Homo sapiens: one gene and its partners. The protein of the gene in region 6 purifies or fractionates together with the protein of the main gene of each other region. This does not show direct contact. Each region holds a gene or a part of one and is shown on either strand. Other genes may lie near its edges. The genes, in order: ROCK2, C1orf198, GLB1, CTSA, PKN3, RHOA and RABL3.

The links.
Region 1: the proteins of RHOA (region 6) and ROCK2 purify together in Homo sapiens (affinity purification with western blotting; 3 studies listed by BioGRID, with this or other methods). This does not show direct contact.
Region 2: the proteins of RHOA (region 6) and C1orf198 purify together in Homo sapiens (co-immunoprecipitation; 3 studies listed by BioGRID and IntAct, with this or other methods). This does not show direct contact.
Region 3: the proteins of RHOA (region 6) and GLB1 purify together in Homo sapiens (co-immunoprecipitation; 4 studies listed by BioGRID and IntAct, with this or other methods). This does not show direct contact.
Region 4: the proteins of RHOA (region 6) and CTSA purify together in Homo sapiens (co-immunoprecipitation; 5 studies listed by BioGRID and IntAct, with this or other methods). This does not show direct contact.
Region 5: the proteins of RHOA (region 6) and PKN3 purify together in Homo sapiens (affinity purification with mass spectrometry; 4 studies listed by BioGRID and IntAct, with this or other methods). This does not show direct contact.
Region 7: the proteins of RHOA (region 6) and RABL3 purify together in Homo sapiens (affinity purification with mass spectrometry; 3 studies listed by BioGRID and IntAct, with this or other methods). This does not show direct contact.

The regions. Positions count from the first base shown.
Region 1 is NC_000002.12:11,208,145-11,212,634, forward strand, and holds part of ROCK2 (rho-associated protein kinase 2), read right to left. Parts: intron 3,697-4,490; coding exon 3,537-3,696; intron 304-3,536; coding exon 143-303; intron 1-142. UniProt on the Homo sapiens protein: Protein kinase which is a key regulator of actin cytoskeleton and cell polarity.
Region 2 is NC_000001.11:230,857,758-230,862,247, forward strand, and holds part of C1orf198 (uncharacterized protein C1orf198), read right to left. Parts: intron 1-4,490.
Region 3 is NC_000003.12:33,012,996-33,017,485, forward strand, and holds part of GLB1 (beta-galactosidase isoform a preproprotein), read right to left. Parts: intron 3,846-4,490; coding exon 3,714-3,845; intron 1,316-3,713; coding exon 1,061-1,315; intron 1-1,060.
Region 4 is NC_000020.11:45,896,262-45,899,744, reverse strand, and holds the end of CTSA (lysosomal protective protein isoform b preproprotein), read right to left. Parts: intron 2,781-3,483; coding exon 2,705-2,780; intron 2,029-2,704; coding exon 1,939-2,028; intron 1,741-1,938; coding exon 1,636-1,740; intron 1,379-1,635; coding exon 1,295-1,378; 3' UTR 925-1,294; downstream 1-924. Other genes in the region: PLTP (phospholipid transfer protein isoform a precursor), read left to right, coding at 60-123, 207-283, 682-804. UniProt on the Homo sapiens protein: Protective protein appears to be essential for both the activity of beta-galactosidase and neuraminidase, it associates with these enzymes and exerts a protective function necessary for their stability and activity.
Region 5 is NC_000009.12:128,705,503-128,709,992, reverse strand, and holds part of PKN3 (serine/threonine-protein kinase N3), read right to left. Parts: coding exon 4,450-4,490; intron 4,260-4,449; coding exon 4,114-4,259; intron 3,281-4,113; coding exon 3,169-3,280; intron 3,098-3,168; coding exon 2,970-3,097; intron 2,772-2,969; coding exon 2,588-2,771; intron 1-2,587.
Region 6 is NC_000003.12:49,376,830-49,381,319, forward strand, and holds part of RHOA (transforming protein RhoA isoform 1 precursor), read right to left. Parts: intron 1-4,490. UniProt on the Homo sapiens protein: Small GTPase which cycles between an active GTP-bound and an inactive GDP-bound state.
Region 7 is NC_000003.12:120,696,964-120,701,453, forward strand, and holds part of RABL3 (rab-like protein 3), read right to left. Parts: intron 1,611-4,490; coding exon 1,460-1,610; intron 1-1,459. UniProt on the Homo sapiens protein: Required for KRAS signaling regulation and modulation of cell proliferation. Regulator of KRAS prenylation, and probably prenylation of other small GTPases. Required for lymphocyte development and function. Not required for myeloid cell development.

The DNA of each region.
Region 1 (4,490 bases), on a different chromosome or scaffold from region 6:
TATCATCAAAATTTAGTTAAACCAACAGGTTGCAGACTATTATAAGAAAAACTTTAAAATTATGAAACCATCACTAGACCTTCATGAATAAACCTATTAATTCATTAGTTTATTATTAATCATTAGTACACTTAATACTTACATCCTCATTTAGCACATCTTTCTGTTTAAGGAGCTCATTTATTTTCTGCTGTGACTGTTTGAGGTCACAGTCTAATAGAGAACATCTTTTCTCAGCTTCTAGCAATAGGTTCTCCACTTTCTGTTTTAAAGTTCTTTCCTCCAAGAGCTTCTTCTCCATTTCTAGTATAATAAAAATGGACACAATCATAAATTTACAAATAAAAGAAGCATATCATAAATTTGTAAGTAAAAGCACATTAAATGACACCATACTAATAAAAATTATAATAAATGATGCTGCCTTATATTCTATTAATTTTCTTTTTTTCTTTTCTTTTTTTTTTTTTTGAGACAGAGTCTCACTCTGTTGCCCAGGCCGGAGTGCAGTGACGCAATCTCAGCTCTTTGTAACCTCCTGGATTCAAGCAATTCTCGTGCCTCGGCCTCCAGACATAACTCGGATTACAGGCGTGTGCCACCACACCCAGCTAAGTTTTGTATTTTTAGTAGAGATGGGGTTTTGCCATGTTGGCCAGGCTGGTCTCAAACTCCTGGCCTCATGCAATCCACCCGCCTCGGCCACCCAAAGTGCTGGAATTACAGGCATGAGCCACTGCACCTGGCCTTAATTTTCAATTTAATATTTTCACTTTCATACTTGAAAATTAGGAGTTTCATTCACAGGGTGTAAAAATGTATCACACTCTGCAATATTACATCTATTCTAATGGAAGCAAGATAGTTCTACCTTTATTTATATTCTACAAGATGCTTACATCTTTAAACAAAGGTTTCTTATATTCTACTGCTTACTGCTATTCTATGTCTCTCAGTGTTACTATTTTTACCTTAAAACAATCCAGGTAGATTCTATGATCTCCATAGGACTTTCCATGTTAACACATTATTATGCAGGTGTTGAAAAATATGTTTTAGGGAGGTGGTAAAGGACAAGACTCTGGAACCAAACTTTCTGAGCTTAAACCCTGGGTCTAACACTGTTTGACTGGGCAAGTAATTCACCTCTCTGGACCTGTTTCCTTATCTCCAGAATAGGGATAACAGCACCTAGGGAGGTTGTGAAGATTTAATACATGTGTACCACTTAAATGCTGCCTGGCATATGGCAAGCACTTGGTAAGTGCTTATTATTTAAGCAGAATTTTTAATGACCAAGGAAACGCTCACAATGTCTTGTTTTTTAAAAAGCAAAACGGTATAGAAAGTGGAGAAAATTTACAAAATAGTATCCTAACTCATAGGATTATGAGTAATCTTTGCTTTTTTCTTTATACTTTCCTGTGTTTTCTAAATTATTTACAATAAATTTTTAATCTATTTTACTTATCAGAAGGCAAAGTTCCAAGTGATTTCAGTGTTAAATGTAAGTCATCACAGTTAAAGGATTATCTTGATATACTGGTTAGTACTTCAGTTCACATTCAATTAAGGCTCCTCTGCTTTTTCATAATTAATGCTCAACATCTAATTATCATCTATTATAAAGTTGTATTAGGTAAAAATTAAACCTATGAATATTTAGTGTTTAATGAATGGTCTTCAAAAGTGCAGAAAAATGAAACATTCCCCATGTAGTACTAATAATAGCATTTCTAAACACTTTACATGTTTTATTGCACTTGATTTTCACAACAACGTAACAATACTGTAATTGTCCCTTCACAGGAAACAAGACACAGAAAGTTTAAATAACTAGACAAGGTCACATAGCTAGTAATTATTTGGTGAGCCATGTTCTTAATCCAAGGAGCCAATGACATGCAACAGAAGGACCAAAGGCTTTAGCCTCAGATTTGAAACCATCTATAATATGTAACAGTTTTGTGTACTCATGTGTAAAATATGGAAGTCATCATGTATCTTACATTAGCGTTTTAATAGTTTGAAAAAAATGGTAGTTAATACTGAATTGGTTCATTTTTATCAATTCAGAGAATAATCACTAAACAAATGTCCTCATTTAACAAAAAAAACAATCACCATAATGTAGGCATTGAGAATAGAAAGAGGCATTACTGAGATAATGAAAATAGTCCTTTTTTTTTTTTTGAGATGGGGTCTTGCTCTGCTACTGAGGCTCAAGTGCAGTGATGCAATCATGGCTCACTGCAGCCTTGAACTCCTGGGCTCAAGCAATGTTCCTGCATCATTGCAGGAATACTGAGAGTCCTACTCCCAAGTAGCTCTGACTATAGGCGCACGCGACTACATCCAGCTAATTTTTCTATTTTTTGTAGAGATAGGGTCTTGCTATGTTGCCCATGCCGGTCTCAAACTCCTGGGCTCAAGAGATCCTCCCACCCTGGCCTCCCAAAGTGCTAGGATTACAGATGTGAGCCACCATGCCTAGCCTGATATATTCTTTATCTTGTTTTGAACAGTAGTTATGTGAGCATATCACGAAATGTCAAAAATGTTTACATTTTATTATTGCATGTAAATTATACCTCAATGAAAATAATTGAACTCTGTCTTCTAGGCCACAGACAAGGAAATATGGCCCAGTAACTTTCTCCCTTACAATTAGATTTTTGTAAATAAAGTACTCATTTCATTTCTTATCATCCTGATTTAGTGCCTTAAACTACACTGATTTTTACTAAGAAAATCTACCATTTTAATTACATGCAATAATTAAAAGGCTATTTTTTCTAAGTTAGTTACTCATGTAATGCTTCAATATGAAAATAAATTTCTGTTCAAGAGTTTTAAGCCTTTCACAAGAATAGCTTAAAGTACTGATTTTCTCTGGAATTTCAGAGTCATTATAAACAGTCAGTTTGGAAAAGAAAAAATTATCCTAAGACAATTCCAGGATAAAGTCTAGTTTATGGGAAGGTTAACTTTGTTATCTATTAGTATTATATGGCTTCGACCAAATCTGGCTAGTATCTTCATCATGTTAGAGATCAAAATACTCAGTGAACTTATATTCTAGTTAGACCAGCTATTACTTTTAAATTCTTACCTTGCATAAACTGGCAAGAATTTTATAATACAAAACTCTTGTATTACAAGAATTACCTGTATCAATAGTAACAGGTATACAGCGTGTGAAGTTCAGATATTCCTTCTTACTACTGATACACGTATACCGAGTGGTACAGATATTACCAGGTATATAATATTGAGAAATATTAATTTATCTCTGATCTAAAAATCTGATCATGTAATTTTGTGTTTGGGTCTTACTATCTTAGAAATGATTACTGTAATGATACAAAGGAAAAATAATAGAATATCTATGTAAAGCTTCCCTAATAGTTTTTTTCCCTCCAATTCCCAATATTTGACAATGAAATATAAAAAAAAATGTTTCAAAACCAAAAAGCTAACACAGAATCAATTCTTAGGAAGACGCTGCTGGAAAACCCTCTTTAAAAAATGCATACCTTTCATGGCTTCTGATTTGGCTTCTTCGATGGACTCATAGATCTTATTTTTATCTGCTAGTCGTGCCTTTGTGGCCTTATGTTCAGCTTCTTCTTGTTCTAGGCTCTGCTGTATAACTTTTAGTTGGTATGTCATATCTATTTCCATGTTGCTTTTTTCCTATTAAATATTTAAAATGCAGCTATCAACAAAAAAGAGACTAGCTCACAATTTCAAAAGCTTTCTAATTTTTTTTTTTTTTTGAGACAGAGTCTTGCTCTGTTACCCAGGCTGAAGTGCAGTGGTTTGATTATGGCTCATTGCAGCCTCAACCTCCCCAGGCTCAAGCAATCCTCCCACCTTGGCCTCCAAAGTAGCTGGGACTATAGAAGTTTGTCACCACTCCTGGCTAATTTATTTTATTTTATTTTTAATGTAGAGACAAGGTCTCATTAAACACTGCCTACACTGATCTTGAACTCCTGGGCTCAAGTGATCCTCCCGACTCAGCCTCCCACAGTGCTGAGATTATAGGTGTGGGCCATGGTGCTCAACCTTAACTTGTTTTTTAACAGGCTTAACTAGAATGTTCAGTATTTCCCCTCCCGTCTTCACTCAAACCTTTTAGAATAGTAATCTATATACTCTACTTCTCTACTTCCCACTGTACCCAACAGTCTACACCACCACTCTGCTGTTCTGAGATCTGTATCAAGCTCACTTAATCTCAACAAAAAGACCAATGCTATTCTCAATATCAAATTCTAAAGACCCTTTTCAGTCTTATTTGAACTCACTGCCCCCCTTAAAACTATCCCTTGGCATTGCCGACCTTGTACTTAGTTGGTTCTCTCCATTCTGCTTGCATCCTTTCTGTTGCTCCTGAAGCTTTCCCAGCTGTCCCTTAAATGTTGGTGATCTAAGCCCCAATACTCCTCCTATTTTCTACATAAACCCCAAAGGTTTTCTAATTC
Region 2 (4,490 bases), on a different chromosome or scaffold from region 6:
GGTATAAATATTAAGAATTACAAAAGTGAGGGAAAAGCCCTACAAACTGGGTTAAGCTGCATTAAAGTGTATCAAACAGTCAGTTCTGAGAACCACATAGTGTGTGCAACTAATGACCATGTGCACAGTAAGATGACCCCCATCCTCAGAGTGTTACAGTCACTGTCCTGTAATGGTATTTGCTTATGATCCTGACTTCTGAACTGATTGGTATGCAGTGCCTCATGGCTGTCAAGCAAAACCTTTAAAAATGAGAGGAACCACTGCCTTTTTGTTTGGAATTTCAGTTAAACTCAAGTCACTTCCCAATGCACAAACTTCATTCCTCCAAAAATGGAAATGGATGCCTGGAGGAATGTGAGTTACCAAGGCTTTGTGATTAGATGTCTCCTAGCAGAGGCAGAGGGCCAGCCTTCAGCTCTAGGGGGCTCCTTGTCCACGTCTCTGTGTGCATGCTAGGGGTACAGTTGAGCTAAATAACCAAAGTCCCTAAAATCCTCAGAACCCTCTGAGTTCCGTTTAGAAGCAATCAAACCAAGAAGGGCTTTGTTTTCACATGGGAAAAATAAAAGAGGCTGATGGAATGTAAGTATCATTTATTCTAGTTAATCATTCATTAACTCTTCGTGAATAAATGATCTCTGCACAAGCCTGGATATTTTCACAGGTTGATTTTCCTCCCCAGCCTCCACACCCCACACTCACACACCCCCTAAGACTTCACCGGCTCTTCACAGCTCTTAGTTCCAGGAGGAAGAACCGGCCATCCACAGGGTAGAGTAGAGATCCAGCTTTGGATCTTTCGAAAAAGGTAAATGGAAATCAACTGGCAAAGGTGCTCCTTCCATCCAGAATCAGACAGGCCACTGGCCACCCAAATGGAAAGAGGAAGTGCATGAACACCTGCGGGGCAGGCAGAGGGCAGGACCACTGACTGGCCAGGGTGGGGCATGATGGAGCTGGACTCCCCTGTTACTCGATATGATTCTAAATATTAATTATATACCTTAAGTCCCTTTGAAATCTGCAAAGATTAAAATAATAAGGCTTTTGGCTTTGGAAGGTGGCTCAATACAACACTCTGAGGAACGAAGACTTAGCCCAGAGCTTGGGGACAGTCAACTCTCCAGTGACTGCAACCCATATTAGCTGAAATTCCAAGGGGGTCACAGGAGGAGAAAGGGTCACACTGTGATTTCTCCCCTACTTAGTGTCGAGTCAATAGTCTTCTGTTTGCTCCAGCAAGAAATGAAGTCAAGGGGCAGATTCCTTGGGTTTCTGTAATTCTGAGCTCATAAAAAACAATAAAGTGCTTAACAAAAATAAACATGCCAAACAAAAATGTGATGGAAGCTCTGATGTCAGCCGTGGACTGCACGCTCTAGCCACAAAAAAGCACTGGCGGCAAGAACAGGCTCCCTGGGCTGTTGGATGCAAATGGAATCAGAATTGCAAAGTGGCGGCACCCACTCACACGCATACAATGCTGTCCTTTCTTCTACTCCCATGGTGACCAGCCTGCAACCAAAATGAGGCCAGGCACATGCTTTTGGACCAATCACATATGCTTTTTCTAGGACTGCTTGGAAGGCTTTCCCACCCCCCTCTCTGGCGCCTAGGATCTGAAATCATCTAAGTGTCAAAACACATCTGTTACTTAGGCCACACGACAAGAGAGTGGGCTTCATTGTTGGCCAGGACTTATCCTCAGAGTCAAATTCCGTAAGAGGCATCCATACCAAATGGGCAGCACTGAATCTCTCCAGAAACAATGACTTCTTTGGAGTGCAGAACAGAAAGATGCCCCAGGTCACCAAATCCCAGAGCAGAAAGCCAAAAAGCAGGGGGGAAGCTATAGAAAGCCACCAGAAACACAGAGCACTTGGCAATTATCAGAGGCCAGCGCTACATGTAAGAGGCTCTGCCAGTCCCCACGCAGCTCCAAGGACTCCGGGATAAACACACACACAAACAATCTTTTTCCCTAACATCCCAGAGACCTTGAGTATTTGCTCTTCTCTGGGAAATGTTCATTCAATTCAGTGTGCACCTCCTAAATCCTAAATGAAACAGAATTAAAAATAATAACATATATTTTTTGCTCATAGTGCTGGAATACATGTTTGCATCATATCGCCAGCGTTTACTTCTTTACTTGTTGATAAAAAAAATGGATACTGGAGGGCTTAAGAACTCTGTGGTTCCTAGACACTTTTATTTTTGGAGGCTGCAAGGCTGCAACCAGAGGTGTGTTGGAGCAGGCCTGCACCAACTAACGAGAGCTGATTGTAAAATTTTGAGGAATTTCTTGAACCTGTTGTTAAATATCTTGTTTAACTGCTGTGATTAAAAAGGTGAATTATACAAACTTGCAATTAAGTCCATTGTATTAAAAATAAAGGTAATATACTTCACACCCACAAGGATGGCTACTATCAAAAAGCAGATACTGGCAAGTATTGGTAGGATGTGGAGGCACTGGAACCCTTGTGCACTCTTGGTGGGAATGTAAATGATGCAGCCATTATATAAAACGGTTCGGCAGTTCCTCAAAAAATTACACATACAATTACCATTTGTTCTAGCAATTTCATTCCTAGGTATACACCCGAAAGAACTGGAAGCAGGGGCTCAGAGATCCTTATACCCCGATGTTTATAGCTGTGCCATTCACAATAGCCAAAAGATGAAAGCAACCAGGTATCCACTGACAGATGATGAATGCATAAACAAAATGTGGTCTATCCATCCAATGGAATATTATTCAGTCTTAAAAAGGAAGGAAATTCTGATACATGCTTCAACATGGATGAACCTTGAAGACATTATGCTTAGTGAACTAAGCCAGACACAAGGATAAAAATCATGTGATTCCACTTATATAAGGTACCTAGAGTAGGCAAAATCATAGAGACAGAAAGTAGAATAGAGGTTATCAGAGACTGAGGCCAGGAAATGGGGAGTTATTGTTTAATATATACAGAGTTTCATTGTTTAAAGGATATAGTTTCACTTTAAATAATACACGAGTTCTGGAAATGGATGGTGGTGATGATTGCACAACATTGAGACTGTACTAAATGCCTCGGACTATACACAGAAAAGTGGTTAAAACGGTAAATTTTATGTTGTATGTATTTTACCACAATAAAAAGTCATGGAAAGACATGGAGGAACCTCAAATGAATATTATTAAGTGGAAGAAGCCAATCTAAAAAGGCTACATATTGTATGATTCCAGCTATATGATATTCTGGAAAAGGCAAAACTACAGAGACAGTAAAAAGATCAGTGGCTGCCAGAGCCTGGGGGGCGGGAGGCATGAGCAGGTGGCACACAGAGGATTTCTGTTAAGGCAATGGATCCCCTCTGTATGATACCATCATGGCGTATACCTCCAAGAGCGACCCCTAGTGTAAACCAGAGACTTCGGTTGACAATGATAAAAACAATGCAGGTTCACTGATTGTAATCAGTGCACCACTCTGGTTTAGGATGTTGGTGGTGGGAAAGGCTGTGTGCATATGCACGTCTGTGTGTACATTTTGGGAAAGGTCTGTGTGGGAACTCTCTGTACTTTCCGCTCAATTTTGCTGGAACCTAAAACTACTGTAAAAACTGAATTTTTTTAAAGTGTGCCCCCCCCAAAAAAAGTAATAAACACTAGAAACTCATCATTTCAATACAGTTACTATTATCCATGGTCTTAAGGTTGTTTGCATCCATTGTATGTGTAAGGTGGAAATACCATATAGCGCGGTGCCCAGATATGCATCCCGTGAGTCACGCCAACAGCGTGCAACGGGCCATGGTGGAGTATCTGGTCATGGCAACCAGCAAATGCTAGAAGTCAGGGCTAGTTCGCCTCACTCCCCCAGAGCCGGCTCCAGCATACCACAGGCTACAACCATAACAAACATCCTGATATTCATCACATTCTGCAAGTGTTTCTGGTGTGTGGATGGATAGCGCCTGCAGAGGGAGCTGTCCAGCATGGGGGCTCCCTTAGGGCCTCCACAAGCTGTTCCAGGAAAAACAGCTAGGCGGGGAGTGAGGGGCTTTCTGGGGTGATTCTAAAACAGCATCAGGATCTTGGAACACGGCAACACGCGTATTGATGCCAGAAATGGTCATCGTCTTCCTGAAATCCATAAATAAGGAGAGTTTCTGGTTGACACCTGTGGCATCTTGGCTTGAAGGTAAGAAATGTAAACTGAGAAATTCTATAAGCTAGAGAAATAAGGCTTAGAGAGCAGAGCATGTGAGCAGGACAGAAAGTCCCATAGGTTGCAGAGTGTGTCACCCTGTAGTGATGCCAGGTGGCCTGGCCATCTTGGTTCATCCAGGGTGGAACACGTTGTTCCTGGTGAGCTGTGTCGTGCCCATCACTCCCTCAGAGATGCCAGAGCCTGTCCTGTGGATCAACTGTAAGGTTTAATTACCGAGTGACAACACTGGTTGTTGTCACTGATAATGACAGCACCCTGGAC
Region 3 (4,490 bases), about 16 Mb from region 6:
ATCACAGTCTTATCATGTCACTCTCCTGCTTCAATGGCTCTCAACACAAAGACAAAACTTTAACGTGGCCTATAAGGCCCGTCCCAATCTAGTCTCTACCTACTTTCCACACTTGACATTTTCCCCTCCAACCCCATGGCCTTTGCACAAGCTGTTACCTCTCCCAGGAACATGCTTTCTTCCCTTCTTGCCATGCTAATTCTTACTCATCCTTCATATCTCTGACAAGCATCACTATCTTAGGGAAGGCTTCCCTGACCTCCCTGACAAGGCAAAATGCACCAATTATTATCAACCCCATAGCCCTTCTTAGCATCCATCACAGCTATGGTTTTACTTTTTAATATGAGTCTGCCTCCCTCACTAGACTGAAAGTTCCATGAGGGAAAGGACCATGTTTGGTTTTATTCATGATTGTATCCTTAGTGCCTGGCACACACCTTGGGCACATAGTGGCCACAGAATGAGAAGTGTGTTGAATGAGTGATGGTAAGGTGATCTAGGATGAAAACAGGACATGAGGGAGAGGAGAAGGCGGTGAAGGAAGATATGCCAATGTCTTCAAACGACAAGGCGGAGTGACTGGGAAGTGAAAATGGATGAGGAAGAGTGGAGAAGCAGACAGCTTATGATAGAAGCCCCAGGGGTGTGGGGCTGGATGCAGGTGGGGATATTCTGGGAGCACTGGGCTTGGCATAAATGAAAACCAGACAGACTCTCCCAGAGGGATCCACCTCTTTGTCTTGACTGGATTGTCCTCAAGATAAAGAGAAAGCACCCCTATAATCAGCATCAAAAGGGGTCATGATTCTTCTTGGAGGAGGCAGGATGGTGTCATTCACTACAGGAAGCCAATGACAAGGGGGCAGATGGCAGCACCTCCGAGCTGGCCACTGAATCCCTGAAGATCTGCCACAATCCGCCTCCTGAAGAATGTCCGAAACGCCACACTCAAAACCATCACACGATATCTCACTAACAGCTCTTTGTGATTCTTTCTCAGACACTAACAACCAAAAGTTTAGGCCTGAATTCAAACCCTTCCCATGAAGACACGTACCTTGGTCCATCCAGGAAACTGGATAAAGGTGTCCTGGGGCAAGTCTGGGATCCCACTGGGAATGGAGAAGTTCCCCATATAAAAGGCCGGGAGCGTGTAGTTGGATGAGTTGTGGGCCCAGGCTTCATCATGGTGGCCACTGTCACGGTGTCCCCAGCCCCCCAGGTGGCTGCACACTGCATCCTCAGTGTCCAGTGGAAAGATCGTCCAGTCCGTGAGGATATTGGAACTGAGAGTCAGGTTAGAAACCAAACCCTGCAAAGCAGAAACAGAGCACAGTGAGCTGGGGAGGGAAGGAAAAAGGCTTCACATGTCTCTGCATTCCAGGGAAATGGGAAAAGCAAACCGGGATACAAAACACCAACAGGAAATGAACCTCGAAATATGTGTACATCGAAGTAACACAGATCTAACTGGAGGTTGAATTACAAATCCTTGGGAAGAGATATATTCCCCAAACTATAGCTTTCTCCTTTGCAGGTCATGATGTCTCTATAAAAGGCCCAGAGTTTCTGCTTCTACAGAAAGGGCATTGAGTTGCTAGAGTGATTGATCCCAAATTCCCAAATTTTCAGAGTTTGGCTGAGAGCCACTGCTAGAATAGAGAAAGATGGGCACCAAGAAAGATGGGCCAGGCGCAGTGGCTCATGCCTGTAATCCCAGCACTTTGAGAGGCCAAGGCAGACAGATCACTTGAGGTTAGGAGTTCAAGACCAACCTGGCCAACATGATGAAACCCCATCTTTACTAAAAATACAAAAGTTAGCTGGGTGTGGTGGCAGGTGCCTGTAATCCCAGATACTCAGGAGGCTGAGGCATGAGAATCGCTTGAACCTGACAGGTGGAGGTTGCAGTGAGCTGAGATCGCGCCACTGTACTCCAGCCTGGGTGTCAGAGCGACACTCCATCTCAAAACAAAAAGGGATCCAGTCTCTACAAAACATACAGAAATTGGCCTAGTGTGGGGGCATGCACGTATAGTCCCAACTACTTGGGAGGCTGAGAAGGGAGGATTGCTTGAGCCCAGGAGACAGAGGTTGCAGTAAGCCGAGATTGTGCCACTGCGCTCCAGGCTGGGTGACAGCAAGATCCTGTCTCAAGATGGAATCTGGGGACAGAAGGAATGAGTGAGTGTGGGATACAAAGGAATAGTCATCCCACTGCGGATGGAGCAGGTACGACGGATGCAGCCAGGAGCAAATATTGGCCTTGAGCACCTCAGCCATCATCACAGGGAGGACCACACCCGAGTCACTCACCTGTTATGAGGGCCAAGTGAGATAACATACATGAGAATACTGTGATACCTTAAGAGGATAGGAAGGTAATGATGACGATGGCAAACCTCAGACCTGAATTCAGAAGCTGCTCTATTTGTTCCACACAGGCCAGGGCTGGGCTGTCAAGGCTCAGCTAACTTCCCCTTCCCTGGCTTGTATGTAGGGAACTTCCCCATTCCCAGTGGAATCCCAGATACCAAGTCTCGATTGCCCATTTAATAATTTGATAAATATTAACCAGGTGGCTGTATGTCAGGCTCTTTGACAGGTACTGGAGACCCAGAGACTACACAACAGAGTCGAGTCACTCCCATGGGTCAATGTGGCCTGTGAGAGCCAGGCAGGAGGCCATGAAGTCCACCCTGAGCACAAGAACTATGAGAGAGACATTTATACTGGAGGCAAAGGTGGCCTGCACACAGCTATTCCCTAAGTTCCCTAAGATGTAATTGCCTGATCTCAAGAGGGTCAGGAAATAGCCCCAGACACCTGTCCTGCCCTAGCCTGGGTGGTGCCATTGTTCCCTTGATAAGGCATTCTCTCCTCTCGCGGAGGTTGAGCTCCCTGAGAGAAGCCTGTCTCTTGACACCTTTGCATTCCCCAAAGCACCTGGTGGGGCATCTCGCGGAGTGGGAGCTTAACAAATGCTTGCTGAATAATGCTCTAAAAATATGTGTTAGAAAAACTTATTTGGGCTACACATCTGGACACAGGAGTAATCAACAGAGGTGAGAGCCAGTGCCCCAAGGGAAGAGGCTTCCTACAAGTGAAGAGTTTGCCACAGGCTAACCATCCAAACCCATAAAACAGGGCAGAACAGAGGCTCAGCTGGCTTTACTGGCAAAGGAGTGCCTTCAGTGAGCTTGGTGGTCTTTTAAAGCAGAGGAAAAGCATGGTGGAGGGGCTTCCTCCTTCTGTTTCTTTCTATAGGATGACCAAACTCAAACACAGGGGAAAGGTTCTGTTTGCAAAGCTCAACTTTCTCATCACCTACAGAGGAAAACAGCTCTTCAAAATAGCTCAACTACTTCTTTTTTTTGAGACAAGGTCTCACTTTGTCACCCAGACTAGAGTGCAGTGGCATGATCATAGGTCATTTTAATCTCCAACTTCTGGACTCAAGCAATTCTCCTGCCTCAGCCTCCTGAGTAGCTGAGACCACAGGTGCATGTCACCACACCTGGCTAAGTTTTTAATTCTTTGTAGAGGTCTCACTATTTTACCCAGGCTGGTCTTGAACTCCTGGCCTCAAGTGATCCTCCTGCCTTGGCTTCCCAAAGTGCTGAGATTACAGGTGTGAGCCACTGTACTGGGCTTCAACTTCTAAGTTGTCACCCCTTAAACCTTAGTCTTGACAGTGTGGTTTGTCCTACCTTAAAATCGTTGATATATGCACCATAGTTCACACGTCCCATGTTCTCTACCAGAAGGTCCAGAGTGGCTCCAGCTTTCCCTGTTATGTTCAGAGTGATCACATTGTTTCGCTCAAGGACTCCCTGGGGGATCTGTGGGGTTCAAGACCAAATGACAATTGAATTGAGGGTAAGAAGGTCAGCAAGGAGAGGCAGCATGCTCAGTTAATTTAGCACTCATTTTCTTGCCTTGAAGTGTCACCAGACTTGGAAAGAAATGCTTTGATAGCATCTTAGCCCAAGTTACCGGCCAGGTCGGAAAGATCCCCCAATCACTGCTTCCTAAACAGGAAAACTGCCAGACACAGCTCAGAGCATGGAACGGTCTAAGCTGGTTTCCTTTGCCCTGGAATGTTTTACTGCCAACTACTTTTAGTGGAAAATTCCAGGGGAGGATTCTTACTAGAGTAGCTGCTTCGTGTTCTGACAGCACAAAAGTCACTCACAAAAAATTGCTTCTGAACAACATGGAGAGATAAGACAAAATCAGACAAAAGAGATAAAATCAGAGAAGTTAGGTGGAGTATTCTCACCTCAAAATACTTGACATGATGCATTAACCACGAAAATCATACAACAGAATGAGGAAAAACAACAGGTATTTTATCAACAACATATTCCTAACTTTTTAAAAGGTTAGACTTTAAAAATTGACCTTACAATGATCATAATTCACTAAGACAACACCCAAGTTAGAAGCGAAGAAACAGTCACCATCAATAGAGCAGAATGTCTTAG
Region 4 (3,483 bases), on a different chromosome or scaffold from region 6:
CAGCTAAAGGCAAACCCAACCCTGACTCACTGCCCTGTTTCCGCCCTCGCCCCTCCCAGCTGATCCCATTACAGGCCCCTCTGAAGACCATGCTGCAGATTGGGGTGATGCCCATGCTCAATGGTAAGGCTGGGGTGTGAGGATGGAGGAAGAAAGGAGGGGTGAACTGGGCGGGCCCAGACTGAGCGGGGTGCTCCCACCCACAGAGCGGACCTGGCGTGGGGTGCAGATCCCACTACCTGAGGGCATCAACTTTGTGCATGAGGTGGTGACGAACCATGCGGTGAGTGGGGGCAGGATGGGGAAGGAGGGAGGGCCTTCCCCTCTCTCTATAGCTCCCCAGTGCCCTCCATTACCTGACCCCAGCTCCCCCATTACCAGTCGCCCCTCCCATTTTAATCTTAGACTCCTAAAAGCCGTTGCACACACTGTGACTTCTTGGAGCACTCTTCTCCCATCCCAATACCTACTAATTGTTCAGGTCTTAGCTCAGAGGTCACCTCCTCCAAGAAGCCCTCCTTGACACCCATAGTCTACACTCCTACAGCCTCATTTTAACACCTTGACATGGAATTATCCATTAGATTGAGTTCCTGAAAGACAAACACTCTGTCTCTTGATCTCTAAACTCTGGCCTCAATAACTGAATGAATAAATGAGGCTCCCCTCTCCCCAACACAGGGATTCCTCACCATCGGGGCTGATCTCCACTTTGCCAAAGGGCTGCGAGAGGTGATTGAGAAGAACCGGCCTGCTGATGTCAGGGCGTCCACTGCCCCCACACCGTCCACAGCAGCTGTCTGAGCCCTCAATCCCCAAGCTGGCAGCTGTCATTCAGGACCCCAACCCCTCTCAGCCCCTCTTTTCCCACATTCATAGCCTGTAGTGCCCCCTCTAACCCCCAGTGCCACAGAGAAGACGGGATTTGAAGCTGTACCCAATTTAATTCCATAATCAATCTATCAATTACAGTCCGTCCACCACCTCCCTGTGGGCTGTCCTGAGCTCTGTTGGGTTCCTGGGATGGAATCAGTGCATCATAAAGGGCATTCTTTAAGCAGAGAAGGGGCCAGGCCACCCCATTCAGGAACTGCTGCGGGAATAAAGTGCTAACTTGCCCCCAGGCTGTCTATGGGAGACCCTGGGCCCAGTCTGGGATGTACAGGGCTCTGGGAAGGGGGCAGTCCTGGCGGCAGAACCCGGCCTGCAGGGGCACTTTGCTTAGAAGAGGACTCTCCTAGCGGGAGAGGCTGGGAGGGGCTGCATCAGGCCGTGGAGCTGGTTGCTGTGGTCATCAGTATGGCTGCTTGTTCAGGAAGCGGGAGAACATGGTGAAGGCAGCGAGGGGCTTGTCGGTGGGAACCATGTGGCCGGCGCCCTGAGGAGCAATGTTCGTGAGCTCCTGACCCCACCATTCCCTCCTCCCCATATAACTGCTCACTCGGGGGCAATTCCTTCATCCCAAACCCTTTATTCTTCCCAGAACCCTCCCCACCCCTCTCCAAAAAAACTTGCCCATACAGGGGCCAGATGGTGACCCATGACCCAGCCTAAAAGGCAGCCAGAGGGAAAGGACGGGTGGGTCCTGCTCCTTTGCCTCCGGCCCAGTTATCTCTCAGCAGGCCCAGTCCCTACCTTGATCGTGAGAAAGGCGATGTGGGAGAACTCCTTCACGAAGCCGGCAATCTGCTCCCCGCTGTCCCCGTACTTCACTAACCAGGGCCGGCGCTGCACCTCCATCTGCCCCACCAGGAAAGACATCAGCCTACAGCAGCTGCATCCTTGCTCACAGCTACCAGCAAGACCTTAGGGCTGGGAATTCCTCCACACTTGCCCTCTGTGGGCCAGAGCCAGGCAGCCAGCTGGCCACTCCCAGGCATACCCGCTCCCAATCCTCCACAGCAGCCCCTATCCCAGGGCCAGGAATCTCTACCTTACCTTCTGGTTGAGGGAATCCACAAACCACTCATCCCCCATGAAATTGCAGGCCATGTCTACATCTCCATTATATAATAGGATCTGGTATTTCTAAAGCAGGATGGGGTAAAAATGAGGGGTGTGGAACAAGCCCAGTCCCCAGCCCTTCCCTAGTTCAAGGCCTACCCCTCAGGAAATTCAAGGGGCCAAGCTAGATAACACGAACCAGGGAATTTTCATGTTTTCTAACGACTTACTGCATGTCCAGTATTCTACTAAATGTTTTATCTGTGAAGGTAGATATCATTATTATCCCCATTTTACAGATGGAGAACCTGAGGCTCATATTTAAGAAATTTGCCCAAGATTATGTGGCTAGTACAGGGACTTGCACCCAGGCCATGTGACTCCAGAGCCCATGCTATTAACCACTGTGCTGGACAGAACCTAGTCCTAACTTGGCCCTGCCAGTGCTTCCTATATCACCTTGTGCAAGGTCTCCTCCCACCCTGGACCTCTGCTGGCCCATTTTTGGCATGAATGAAGCTCTTCTCACCCTTAAGACTCCGTGGCTGATGCAGACCCCTAGGCCTCCTATAGCAGGACAGCATGGGTGGGGACAAACCCAGGTTCAAATTCTGACCCCACCAATCACAGGACCCTGGGCTTCGCCTTTCGGAGTTTCAGCTTCCCTTGTCCTGACAGGAAGTCTCAAGGGCCCCCAGCTTGCTGTGCTACTCTGGGGTCCTAAGGCTGCTGGTGATCCAGCTGTGCTCTCCCCACTCACCTGTGAGCTAAGCAGCTTCAGATACTGGGAGTTCATGCTTCGGTAGAGACGGCGGTACTGTAAGTTTACCAGAAAGCTGCCGGGAACATACGAGCAGGCCCCAGGAAGACCAGGTCGGGGCGAAAAGTAGTCAACAGATCAGACCTTCTCTCCTATCTCCAAGCTCCAACCCAGAAGGCAGACAGCTGGGTTCCACTCCCCTTTTTGGGGGGGGGCCACCTCTCTAGGACTGACTTGGATGTTGGGCTGGATGGGCTGGGATTCAGACAGCCTCAACTCACCACCATTTAGAAAGGTACAGGGATGCTGGGCGTGGTGGCTCACGCCTGTAATCCTAGCACTTTGGGAGACCGAGGTGAGTGGATCACGAGGTCAGGAGTTCGAGACCAGCCTGACCAACATGGTGAAACCCCGTCTCTACTAAAAAAAAAAATACAAAAATTAGCCAGGCGTGGTGGTGCGTGCCTGTAGTCCCAGCTACTCAGAAGGCTGAGGCAGGAGAATCACTTGAACCCGGGAGGCGGAGGTTGCAGTGAGCCAAGATCGCAGCACTGCACTCCAGCCTGAGTGACAGCAAGACTCCATCTCAAAAAAAAAAAGAAAAAGAAATGTACAAGGGACGCATTTTGGTTGTTACGAGGACTGGGATGCATCTGGCATTTAGTGTCTAGGGGCCAGCAGGTGTGGGAGTCACAACATACAACAGGGTAGAGTGTGAGCACTGACCAATCAAAATGGACCTGAGCAGCCCTGCTGGGCCCAGTGTTACCCTTTTACTT
Region 5 (4,490 bases), on a different chromosome or scaffold from region 6:
GATCGCGCCACTGCACTCCAGCCTGGGTGACAGAGCTCAGAGTCTCACTCTGCTCGGAGTCTCACTCTGTTTGGAGTCTCACTCTGTCACCCAGGCTGGAGTGCAGTGGCACAATCTCAGCTCACTGCAAGCTCCGCCTCCCAGGTTCATGCCATTCTCCCACCTCAGCCTCCCGAGTAGCTGGGACTACAGGCGCCCGCCACCACACCCAGCTAATTTTTGCAAATTTTTTTTTTTTTTGAGACAGAGTTTTGCTCTTGTTGCCCAGGCTGGATTCCAATGGTGCCATCTTGGCTCACTGCAACCTCCACCTCCCGGGTTCAAGCAATTCTCCTGCTTTAGCCTCCTGAGTAGCTGGGATTATAGGCATGCACCACCAGGCCCGGCTAATTTTGTATTTTTTAGTAGAGACGGGGTTTCTCCATTTTTGTCAGGCTGCTCTCGAACTCCCGACCTCAGGTGATCCACCCACCTCGGCCTCCCAAAGTGCTGAGATTACAGGCATGAGCTGCCGTGCCCAGCCTAATTTTTTTTTTTTGAGACGGGCTCTCTGTTGCCCAGGCTGGAGTGCAGTGGCGCGATCATGGCTCATTGTACCCTCAACCTCCCTGGGCTCAAGCAATCCTCCCACCTCAGCCTCCCAAGTAGCTGGGACTACAGGTACGTACCATCATACCTGGCTAATTTTTTTATTTTTTTATTTTTTTTTGAGACAGAGTCTCGCTGTGGCCCAGGCTGGAGTGCAGTGGTGCGATCTCGGCTCACTGTAGGCTCCGCCCCCCGGGGTTCCCGCCATTCTCCTGCCTCAGCCTCCCGAGTAGCTGGGACTACAGGCGCCCGCCACCACGCCCGGTTAATTTTTTGTATTTTTAGTGGAGACAGGGTTTCACCGTGTTAGCCAGGATGGTCTCGATCTCCTGACCTCGTGATCCGCCCGCCTCGGCCTCCCAAAGTGCTGGGATTACAGGCGTGAGCCACCGCGCCCGGCGATTTTTGTATTTTTTGTAGAGATGGAGCTTTGTCATGTTGCCCAGGCTGGTTTCAAACTCCTGGACTCAAGTGATCCACATGCCTCACCCTCCTAAACTGCTAGGATTATAAACATGAGCCACTGAGCCAGACCAGAAAACTCTTTCTTTTTTTTTTTTTCTTGAAAGAGTTTTGCTGTGTCACCCACGCTGGAGTGCAACAGTGCAATCTTGGCTTACTGCAACCTCTGCCTCCCAGGTTCAAGCAATTCTCTTGCCTCAGCCTCCCCAGTAGATGGGATTACAGGCATGCGCCACCACGCCCGGCTAATTTTTTTTGTTTCTAAAGATGAGGTTTCACTATGTTGCCCAGGCTCGTCTAGAAATCCTGGGCTCAAATGATTCGTCCACCTCAGCCTCCCAAAGTGCTGGAATTACAGGCTTGAGCCACTGTGCCCAGCCAAGAAAACTTTCTTTTTTTCTTTTTTTTTTGAGACTGGGTCTCAAAAAAACTCCTGAGCTCAAGCAATCTTCCCACCTCAGCCTCTCAAAGTGCCAGGATTATAGGTGTGAGCCACTGCACCCAGCAATTTTAGTTTAATTTTATTATTTTTTTTCCAAGGAAATTATTATTATTATTTTTTGAGATGGAGTCTTGCCCTGTTACCTAGGCTGAAGTGCAGCGGCGCAATCTCAGCTCACTGCAACCTCACCTCCTGGGTTCAAGCAATTCTCCTGCCTTAGCCTCCCGAGTGGCTGGGACTACAGGCATGTGCCACCACATCCAGCTACTTTTTTGTATTTTTAGTAGAGACAGGATTTCACCATGTTGGCCAGGCTGGTCTTGAACTCCTGACCTCAGGTGATCCGCCCACCTCAGTCTTCCAAAGTGCTGGGATTACAGGCATGAGCCACCATGCCTGGCCCAAGAAAACCTTTTTTTTTTTTTTTTTTGCGACGGCGTCTTGCCCCGTCGCCCAGGGTGGAGTGCAGTGGCGTGATCTCGGCTCACTGCAACCTCCGCCTCCGGGGTTCAATCAATTCTCTGCCTCAGCTTCCTGAGCAACCAGGATTACAGGCACCCGCCACCACGCCCGGCTAATTTTTGTATTTGTAGTAGAGACAGGGTTTCACCATCTTGGCCAGGCTGGTCTTGGAACTCCTGACCTCATGATCCACCCACCTCAGCCTCCCAAAGTGCTGGAATTACCAGCGTGAGCCACCACGCCCAGCCTAGAAAACTTTCTAACAGTCCAAGCTGCCCAGTGCTGGGTATCAAGCTTTCCAGGGCTGCGAGCTTCCTAACACCAGTGCTTTAAGCATTATTCTGGTTATTTATGTAAATACAAGCTACGCTGTCCGAGTGCTGACTGTGCTAGGCACTGTGCTTAGCACATCACGTGCAACACAGCAACCCTATGAGGTAGGTGCTATATCATCCACATTTTACAGATGGATAAACTGAGGTTTGAAGAAGGAATGTCAGTTTGCCAAGGTCACGCTGCTAGTGGGTGCTGGGGCAGGACTGGAACTCTTGAACTCTTCATCAGAGTTGTTTGTGCTTCCGGCCTCCCCCCAAAAAGAAGGAGAGCTTTGAAGGGGGAGGAACTTCTGACTACCTGTTAGGGCGGTGGGCTTCACAGGTGTCCCTGAAGGCTGGGGGTATCCAGGCACCGCAGCCCGCAACTCTCGGGTCACTCTGCTGCGCAAAGGGTGGGCAGGAGGCAGTTGCTCCAGCAGCTGCTCCAAGGCCAGGCGCAGGAGGTCCAGTTTCTGAGAGGACTCCTGTAGCTGGGCCTGGGCCTGCAGAGGGGACAACGTAGAGCCAGGTTCGTGGGGTATATGGCAGGGGGCAGCAGCCCAGGTCACCCGGAGCCACCTTCCGCATGAAGTCTCAACAGAGAAGTCCTGCTTTTACACGGCCACCCTCCCTTCACACCCCTGCTGAGGGTGGTATGGGAACAAGCCAGCCTTAGGAGAGGGCCAGGGCTGGGGCCTGACCTCAGCCAGTGCCTTGCGGTCCTGTGTTCTCCGGCTACTAAGCAGTTTCACCACGTTCTTGGCGCCCTCAGCCACAGCTGCCTCAACGTGCAGTCGATGCTGTAGCTCCTCCGCCAGCAGCTCAGGCCCTGTGGGAAGGACGGCGGCTCTCAGGCCCTGCTCTTCCCTGCTCCGCCCTCCCTGTGTCTCAAGGCCTCACCTGGCTCCGGGGACCCACTGGCCTCCAGGCTGCTGATCTTCATCCGCAGCAGGGCCACCTTCAGCTGGCTGTCCCGCAGCATCTGCTGGGCAGCTGCCAGGAGCTTCCTCTCCTATGGAGCCATAGCACAGGCCCATCAGACCAGGCCTGGGCCACAGCTTCCCCCATCAGACCAGGAACTGGAGCCGGGTCTCCCCCATCAAAACAGGGTTAAAGTGAAACCTCTAGGCCAAACACTAAAGTCAAGCCTCCCTTGTTGGACTAGTTGGTGGGTCAGGGGAGCCTTTTCCATCTGACCAACAAGGGCTGGGGTCAAATTTCCTCTTTCATATCACGGCTGGGGTCATGCCTCTCCCATCAGATCAGGGCTGGGGCTAACTCTCCCCCATCAGATCAGGGCTGGGGCTAACTCTCCCCCATCAGATCAGGGCTGTGGTCATGCCTCCCCCATCAGAGCAGGGTTGATGCTTCCCCCATCAGATCAGGGCAGGGGCTAAGCTAAGCCTCCCCCATTAGATGAGGGCAGGGGCTAAGCTAAGCCTCTCCCATCAGATCAGGGCTGGGGATAAGCCTCCCCCATCAGATCAGGGCAGGGGCTAAGCTAAGCCTCCCCCATTAGATCAAGGCTAAGGTCCTGCCTCCGTCATCATATCAGGGCCACAGCCAAGTCTTCTTGTCAGACAAGGACTGAGGCCCAGTTCTGGACATCATGCTGGGAGTTGGGACTGGGGCTGGGCTAGGATCCCATTAGACCAGGGCAAGGCCTTCTCTGTCACACTAGAGACTACAGCCATGCCTTCCTCACCCAGCTGGGGTTTGGGGCTGTATTTTCCCCATCAGGCTGCAGGCTGGAATGGTGTCTCCTTATGAGCCCAATGGCTGAGGTGCATTTCCCTGTCAGACCAGGGGCCAGGGTGCTCCTGCCATCAGACTGTGGGGCCTTACCTTGGGGGTGCCACTGGCGCACGTGTGGGTCATGTTCTCAGCCCCCTGCTTCACCTTCAGCTCCACATGCAGCTGCCTCCGGAGAGCCTCTAGGTGCCGAGCCCTGAGCTGCTCTGCCCACGGCCGGGGTCCTGAGGCCACAGGCTCTGTGCACGGGGGTATCGAGCACAGGAGTCCCTCACCCAGAGCCGAGACCCCCACTGTGGCCTTTCCTCCTTCCCCTACTGATCTATAGGCAGGAAATGAGGTGGTCTCGCCACAGTGGCCAGGGCCAAGGCCAGGGGCCAGATGGGCCTAGAGCCTTCTGTCCTGAGGGGGTCTCAGCTCCTCACTCACCAGCTGGGCCAGGCCCAGGGCCGGGCAGCAGGATTCGGGCG
Region 6 (4,490 bases):
AAAGAAACAGCATTCTTGGCTGGGCGCGGTGGCTCACGCCTATAATCCCAGCATTTTGGGAGGCCGAGGCAGGCAGATCACCTGAGGTCAGGAGTTTGAGACCAGCCTGGCCAACATGGAGAAACCCCATCTCTACCAAAAATACAAAATTAGCCAGGCGTGGTGGCACATGCCTATAATCCTAGCTACACAGGAGCAAGAGGCAGGAGAATCGCTTGAACCCGGGAGGCAGAGGTTGTGGTGAGCCGAGATCATGCCATTGCACTCCAGCCTGGGCAACAAGAGCGAAACTCCGTCTCAAAAAAGAAAAATCAATTGAGGCCGAGCACAGTGGTTCATGTCTGTAATCCCAACACTTTGGGAGACTGAAGCAGGAGGAATGCTCAGGCCCAGGAGTTAAGAGACCAGCCCTGACAACATAGTGAGACACTGAGAAAGGAAGGACGGACGGAAGCATGAGAGGGGAGGGGAGAAAGAAAAGGGCCGGGCGCAGTGGCTCACGCCTATAATCCCAGCAATCTGGGAGGCCGAAACAGGTGGACTGCTTGAGAGTCCAGGAGTTCAAGACGAGCCTGGGAAACATAGTGAAACCCTGTCTCTACTAAAAATACAAAAAATTAGCCAGGAGCGGTGGTGCATGCTAATCACAGTTACTTGGGAGGCTCAGGTGGGATAATCCCCTGAGCCCTGGAGGTGGAAGCTGCAGTGAGCTGAGATTGCATCACTACACTCCAGCCTGGGGAACCCCAGTGAGACACTGTCTCTAAAAAAAGAAGGAAAAGAAAAAAAAAAAAATCAGCCAGTTGTGGTAGCATGCACCTGTAGTCCCAGCTACCAAGGAGGCTGAGGTGGGAGGATTGCTTGAGCCCAGGAGGTGGAGGATGTGGTGAGCTATGATTGCATCACTGCACTCCAGCCTGGGTGACAGAGTGGAACCTTGTCTCAAACTCTTATGACTCAACTACAAAAAAGCAGCTTAGGTTGGTGGTCTGGCTCAGGATCTCTTGCAAGGTTGAAATCATAAAGAACTCTTTTTGGGCTGGGCACGGTAGCTCACACCTGTAATCCCAGCACTTTGGGAGGCTGAGGCAAGCAGAACACTTGAGGTCAGGAGTTCGAGACCAGCCTGACCAACCCAGCAAAACCCCGTTTCTACAAAAAATTCAAAACTTAGCCGGGTGTGGTGGTGGGCACCTGTAATCCCAGTTACTCGGGAGACTGAGGCAGGAGAATCGCTTGAACCCAGGAGGCAGAAGTTGCAGTGAGCCCAGATTGTACCACTGCACTCCAGCCTGGGCAACAGAGCACTCCAGCCTGGGCAACAGAGTGAAACTGTGTCTTAAAAAAAAAAAAAAAAAAAAAGAGAGAACTCCTTCTGACATGAAGTACGCTATTTATCTATCCATCTATCTTTTTTTTTTTTTTTTTTTTTTTTGAGATGAGGTCTCACTCTGTCACCCAGGCTGGAATGCAGTGGCGTGATCTTGGCTCAATGCAATCTCCACCTCCGAGGCTCAAGTGATCCTCCCACTTCAAATTCCCCAGCAGCTGGGACCACAGGCATGCGCCACCACGCCCAGCTAATTTTTGTATTTTTGGCAGAGACAGGGTTTTGCCATGTTTCCCAGGCTGGTCTCCAACTCCTGAGCTCAAGTGATCTACTCGCCTCGGCCTCCCACAGTGCTGAGGGATTACAGGCGTGAGCCACTGCCCATCTATCTACGCATCTATCCAATCTATGTACCTATCTAACCTATCTATGTGTTTCTCTATTATGTAGTTATTTTCAGAAAGGGTCTCATTCTGTCACCAAGGCTGGAATGCAGTGGTGCAATATTGGCTCACTGCAGCCTCTGCCTCCCAGGCTCAACTCAAGCGATCCTCCCACCTCAACCTCTCCAGTAGCTGGGACTACCAGGCTCCTGCCACCACAGCTGACTAATTTTTATACAGATAGCGTTTCACTATATTACCCAGGCTGGTCTCAAACTCCTGGGCTCATGCAATCCTCCCGATTCAGCCTCCCAAAGTGCTGGGATTACAAGCATAAGCCACCTCCCCAGGCCTAAATACAGTATATAGAAAAAATTAAAAAATAAAGAACTCTTACAATTCAATAATAAAAAGACAAATAATCTAATCCAATTAAAAAATGAGCAAAGGATGTGAGTAGGTATGACCCTGCAATTCTATTCCTAGGTATATATCTAAGAGAAACAAAAACATATGTCCACATAACAACTTGTACCTCTACATGAATATTCATAGCAGGATTATTCATAATATATTGTCAAAAAATGTAAAGAACCCAAATATCCAACAACTGATGAATATAATATATCCATACAATGGAATGGAATATTATTCAGCGATAAAGGATAAAGTACTGATATATGCTATAGTATGGATAGATCTTGGAAATGTTATATAAGTGAAAGAACCCAGTCACAAAAACCAACATGCATGATTCCATTTATATAAAATTGTCCAGAATAAACAAATTCAGAAAGAGAAAATAGACTGGTAGTTGCCTAGGGCAGGGACTTGGGGGTGGAGAGAAATGGAAAATGACTAATGGAATACTGGAGTTTCTCAGGTAAAAAGATTTTTCCAAAATTATTGTGGTGATGGCTGCACAACTCTATGAATATACTATAAACTATTGATTATAGTATATATAATTCACACATTTTATTTATTTTGAGACAGGGTCTCACTCTGTTGCCCAGGCTGGAGTATAGTGGTGCGATCTCCACTCACTGCAACCTTAGCCTCCCCAGGCTCAAGTGAACCTCCAATCTCAGTCTCCCAAGTAGCTGGAACTAAAGGTGCATGCCACCACACCCGGCTAATTTTTTGTATTTTTAGTAGTGACCGGGTTTCACCACGTTGCCCCAGCTGCTCTCAAACTCCTGAGGTCAAGCGATCCTCCTGCCTGTCTCTCCCAGTGTGTTGGGATTACAGGCGTGAGCCACCGCACCCAGCCCACAGTATATATAATTCACACTTTAAAAAGGTGAATTGTAAGATATGTGGATTATATTTCAATAAAGCTGTTACCACCACTCTCGCCCCCAGTGGGGGGAAAAAAGAGAGAAATCTGCAGATTCCTTCCATCTGGCAGACAGTGATGGTCAACCATCCCAATTCCCGCCCTTCCCTCCTAGACCATACTTCGATTTTTAGCTATGTACTTTGTTGTAGACTACACTTCCTAGCTTCCCTTGGAGACATGGCCATGTACCATGAGATGTGAGAATCAGCAGTATGTTGTGGGACTTCCAGAAAGTCTTTCTTAAAGGGAAGTCTTTATTATCCTCCTCCTTTCCTGCTGCTTAAATCTAAAGTAAGGGCTGGTTTCTAAGCAGCCATCCTGGTATGTGAGAATGAATGCCATACCGTGGGGCTGGAAGAACCAAAAGGTAAAAAGGAGCCTGGATCTCAGGTGATCTTGGGAGCCACCATCTCAGCCCCAAGACTGCCTACCTTCCATGTTTCTTCCATATGAATGAGAAATAAATGACTGTCTTATTTAAGGTGGTATTTTTCAAGTCTCTGTTACCTATAGTCAAACTAATCCTAAATTATATACACTCAGCTGGGCATGGTGATTCACGCCTGTAATCCCAGCACACTGGGAGGCCGAGGCGGGCAGATCACGAGGTCAGGAGTTTGAGACCAGCCTGGCCAACATATGAAACCCCATCTCTATTAAAAATATTAAAATTACCCAGGCGTGGTGGGGTGAGGCAAGAGAATCGCTTGAACCTGGGAGGTGGAGGTTGCAGTGAGCCAAGATCATGCCACTGCACTCCAGCCTGGGTGACAGAGACTCTTGTCTCAAAAATAATAATAATAATAATAATAATAATAATAATAATAATAATAATAAATACTCATTATCAAAACTATATTGTCTAAAGGGTATGTTCCCCAACCAGAATGGATAAGACAATCCACAGGGGTACCAGAAGAAAACTCAGAGGGCAAACAACGACAAAAATAAACAATGAAAACAAAACAAAAAAACTCAGAGGGCTGACAGTGCTGCCATTACTCATTTGTGAATTCTCAGGACAATATTACATACAGCAGTGAATACGTGTGTGTGTATATATATAGATACAGATATTATAGAATTTTATCCAAATCTACAAAATCTAGTAACTTTTTTTTTTTTTGCAAAAAGGGAGTAAATTGAAGATACTACTAATCATGAAAGCACAATAAGAAGCATATCGATGATAGGGAAATGTGCTCAATGCATATCTTCAAACAAGAGCATGCAGTCAAGGCTAGGAGTAATGGCTCATGCCTGTAATGCCAGCACTTTGGGAGGCTGAGGTAGGCGGATCACTTGAGGTCCAGAGTTCAAGACCAGCCTGGCCAACATTGTGAAACCCCGTCTCTACAAAAAATATAAAAATAAGTTGGACGTAGTGGCATGTACCCATAATCCCGGCTACTCGAGAGGCTGAGGCAGGAGAATC
Region 7 (4,490 bases), about 71 Mb from region 6:
ACCAAGCAGTGTTCATAAACATTGATTCATAGAATAAAGGCATCAGAAGCACCTGAGTTATTTGTTAAAACTGCAGATTCCTGGTCCTCCTGCCAGGCTTGATGAATAAAAAGCTCCAGCTGTGGGACGGTTATTCAAAATTTTCCATAGGTACTATTGGTAATATAAATACACAATCAGATTTGGGTAACTGTTGGTCTAGATGATTTCTAAGAGTTTTTTCAGCTGCCAAATTCTCAAGGTGAGTTGAAGGATTAATTAAGTGCAAAAGAGGCTTAACTGTAGAGCACAGGCTCTGAATCTGAATACCCTAATTGACCTGGGTAAACTTCCTTGGTCTTGTTACGTCTCTCCTTCTTATCTTTAAAAAGAGGATAGTAATAGTACCTGTCTTATAGAGTTGATTGTGAAGATGATGCATGTGAGATAATGTATGTAAATAACTAAAACAGTTTTCAACCCGTAAGTGCTCAATAAATGTTGCTCACTAGTACTATTACACCACCACCACTGCATTTCTGGAATGCCAGTGCACAGTTGCAGAAATCCTATTTGTGAACAACATGACCATGACTGAAATTGCTGGCCAGGATCTTTTTCTGGGATCCTAACAGGCTTACATGACAACCATTTCTTAGCTTTTTTACGCGCTCAGTTCTCATTGAGCTAGTTATCTCATCAAGGGACTCAATCCTCTATATATGCATAAGTGTACATAAATTAGTCCTTATGAAGCACTCCTAGTTTAAGGTTTGCAATTTTTTCATGTATTTGTTACGTTGCCCTTTAAGGTAAAATTTGTAGTTTAAGAAGCTAAGAGGCTTTTTAAAAGCAAGAATAATATGCTTATAGTGCCACTTTAATCAATTTATTTTAATTTTGGTGTGATTTTAAAAACCTTTCTCAAGAAAAAGCCCATGGGCCAGGTGCAGTGGCTCGCGCCTGTAATCCCAGCACTTTGGGAGGCCAAGGAGGGCAAATCCAGTCAAGAGTTCAAGACTAGCCTGGGCAACATGGCAAAACCCCATCTCTACTAAAAATATTTAAAAAATTAGCTGGACATGGTGGTACATGCCTGTAATCCCAGCTACTCAGGTGGCCTAAGCATGAGAATCGCTTGAACCCAGGAGGTAGAGGCTGCAGTGAGCTGAGAACGCGCCACTGCACTCCAGTCTGGGCGACAGAGCGAGACTCTGTTTCAAAAAAAGAAGCCTATGATTTAAATTATTCATAGAATAAAGTTGGAACATTCCAACAGACCAACATAAAAGGCTGAAGTGACTGTGCACATCTCTCAGTCTAGATATGTTGATTCCAATCTTGACTACGTTTAGACTAGAATCCAAATAGCCTGATTTCAAGTATAAAGCTTCTTTCACTAGAATATATTATTTGAATATGTCTTCAGTTTTGTCTTTACCCGATAATAATACAAGCATGCATTAGTGAAAATACATACCAAATTAATTTCTTCTGGATTGAAATCCTCAGCCAGGAAAGCAGTCCTAGTTAAAACTTCATGGCGCTTTGTTTCATGAATCTGGTCCAGTTTAGTCCCTATTACCAACAGTGGTATTTGGTTATCAGCAAACTGTTCTTGATCATAATCCCTGTGATAAATAATAATGAAGAGGTGAATAGAATGTATCTTTCTGGTGTAGATGTGTAATATTTAAGTGCAACTAAGTTACACTATTTTACTGAAAATTAACTGATTTTTGCTGCCTTCACCTACAAACCTACTTTCCTTCCAACTTCTTCCATCTACTTGTTCTTTTATCAATCCATCCTCATCATCAGATTCCAGCTATTCATCTAACTTCTCAAAATTTGGTCCCATGTTTTTATTGAATATTGAACAATACTGAATAATTGAACAACTAAGTGCCCATCAAGTATATTACAGTCAGTGGACTTAACTTCCAATGTAGCTGTGTCTTCTAAGGTTAACATAACAGCTCAGGAATATTTCAGAGTAGAAGCAGAGAGTGGATTTAAGCCTCATCGTAGCAAAAACCCAAAAGCCTAGCATGGCACTCAAGCCTTGTGCTAGAAGAGAAAATGGCAAGCTTCTTGGGTACCTTTTGGGGTATGCATTAATTCTATATCTACAATACACATTTCTGTCTGAATAGTAAAGAAATAAGAAGAATAAGAAAATAGAAATAGGGAAGCTGAAGCCTAGAATAAATCAAATATAGGTGATACTATAGCCTGGGAAAGGTGGATTAAACACATGGAAATGGAAGGAAACAGCTGAAATGCAAAATGAATAGTAAAAGGAAAGAACTTAGTACCAAGTAGTTGTTTCCTGAAATGAGAGCCATGGGAGATAGAGGACGGGCAATAAGAACCACTTAGGGTTAGTGGCCTTGGATCACTGGCTATTACAATCCTTATTTTTTAAAAAATTTATTTATCCAAAGAACAGAGTGGTGATGTAAATGATACTTCTCATTACTGAAAAGAACACAGAGGCCATTGCTGTTGAATTAATTTAAATTCTACTCACATATTAGAAATAAAACAGATTTGGATTTCTGACACGTTATAAGCTCAACTTACAACAGTCAGCAAAATCTGGTTGTGCACAATTTATGACAGTAAATCAATATTGCATAATCCAATCACTACAACCCAGTCGAGCATAGCTTTTTTTCTTCCTTTAACACTACTTTTCTTTCTCTTACAGAAATTCTAAATTGGGGTAGGGGGCAAAGTTACTAAGTATTTATGCCCTTCACAATAATCTTACAGCGCCTCAGCAAACTGTTCAGCCTCGGAACACAAGTGTTTTACTATACAACCTCCCATCTCACAAAAATATTACCATTCTATTTATTGCATCAAAGCCAATAATAGCATGATCAAGACCTTTGATTATTCATATCAACAGCAACTCTAATTAAAGAGACATGGTTCAAAGCTACAATTCGCTTTGTTAGGGAATGAAGTTTTGAGAGTGTCTTTCCTTTAGGACTGTTTCCTTCTGTCTCACATACAAAGTTTTGCATATCTTCTATCAAATATCATCTTTGATGTACATACATCTCTCATATAGTCTTGCACAATTCCTTGCACACTGACACATATAAAGCATACATATATAGTTTGCTCTCTTATTTCTCTTTTTAGCTTTCCTTTTAACTTTTTCATAAAATCTTGCAGCATCCAATTTAAAATTTAATCTTGAAATCTTCTTTGGTAAACTTCTGAAGAACTTTATCATGGATGGATAAGGCTGATAGCTCCTTAACATCACAAAGAGACACACAGCCAGGTATCATATTATATGCATAATACTGGGTGGAAAAATAAAGACAAAAAAACTTGCATCTTTCAGACCACTATATTTAATTATCACTTCAGAGAAGATTTAGAATTCAGAGAAACAAGTTTAAAAGACAATACAGGGAGACAATCAGCAAATCCAGAATATAGGAAACTGTACAAGACAAACAGCCATCTTCTTCTACAAATAAAGTGCTAGGAGGTTGGAAAAAAAACAACCAAAAAGGGAGAACCTAAGATTAAAAGATACTTAAGAAACCAAATACAACCAGTGGACCTTATTTAGATACTATTTCGAAAAAATCAATTATAACATTTATGAGACAATTGGGGAAATTAAAATAATATTTGGTTATTAAAGAATTATTATTAAAGTTTTAGCTGTGATAATTATATGGTGTCATGTTAAAAAAAAGCCCTTATGTTTTAAAGTATATATGGATGAAATGATATGATGTTTTAACATTTGGTTCAAAATAATCCAGTTGAGAGTGGGAGAAGATAGAAAGTGGGTAGAGATATGGATGAAACAAGACTAGCTATATGTTGATAATTGTTGAAACTAGGCAACGGGTATATGGGAGTTCATTTTCCATTCTTTGTATTTACATATGTTTAAAATTTTCTATAATAAAAAGTTAAAAAAAGTTATTGTGGTAAAAACTACATAATATAAAATTTACCTAAATTGTTTAAATATGGCTAAAAACTCAAACTGATATAAAAGATATATGCTAAGCAGTCTTGCTCCTACCACTGTACCCATCCACCCATCTCCCCTGGCCCCCTATAGGTTACCATTTTTATTAGTTTCTTATTTTTCACTGATTCTTTATCCAAATATAAATACATATTATTTCTTTTCTTTCTTATACAATAGGAGGTATACGATATATATTCTCTGCATTTTGATTTGTTAAACCTAATAATGTACCCTCTGTAGATCTTTCTATTTTAGTTCATAGAGATCTTCCTGATTCTTTTTTAAACATTGAATACTACTCCAGTATGTGGATATGCCATTATTTATTCAATGAATCTTTCGTTGCTCGGACACTAGGGTTGTTTCCAAATTTTTTGATGCTATACAATAATGCACCAACAAAGCACACCAATGTATTAAGGTTGTTTTATACATTTGCAGGTTTATCTATAGAATCAAAATGAAACTGTAGTGTCAAAATGCAAATGGGTATAGA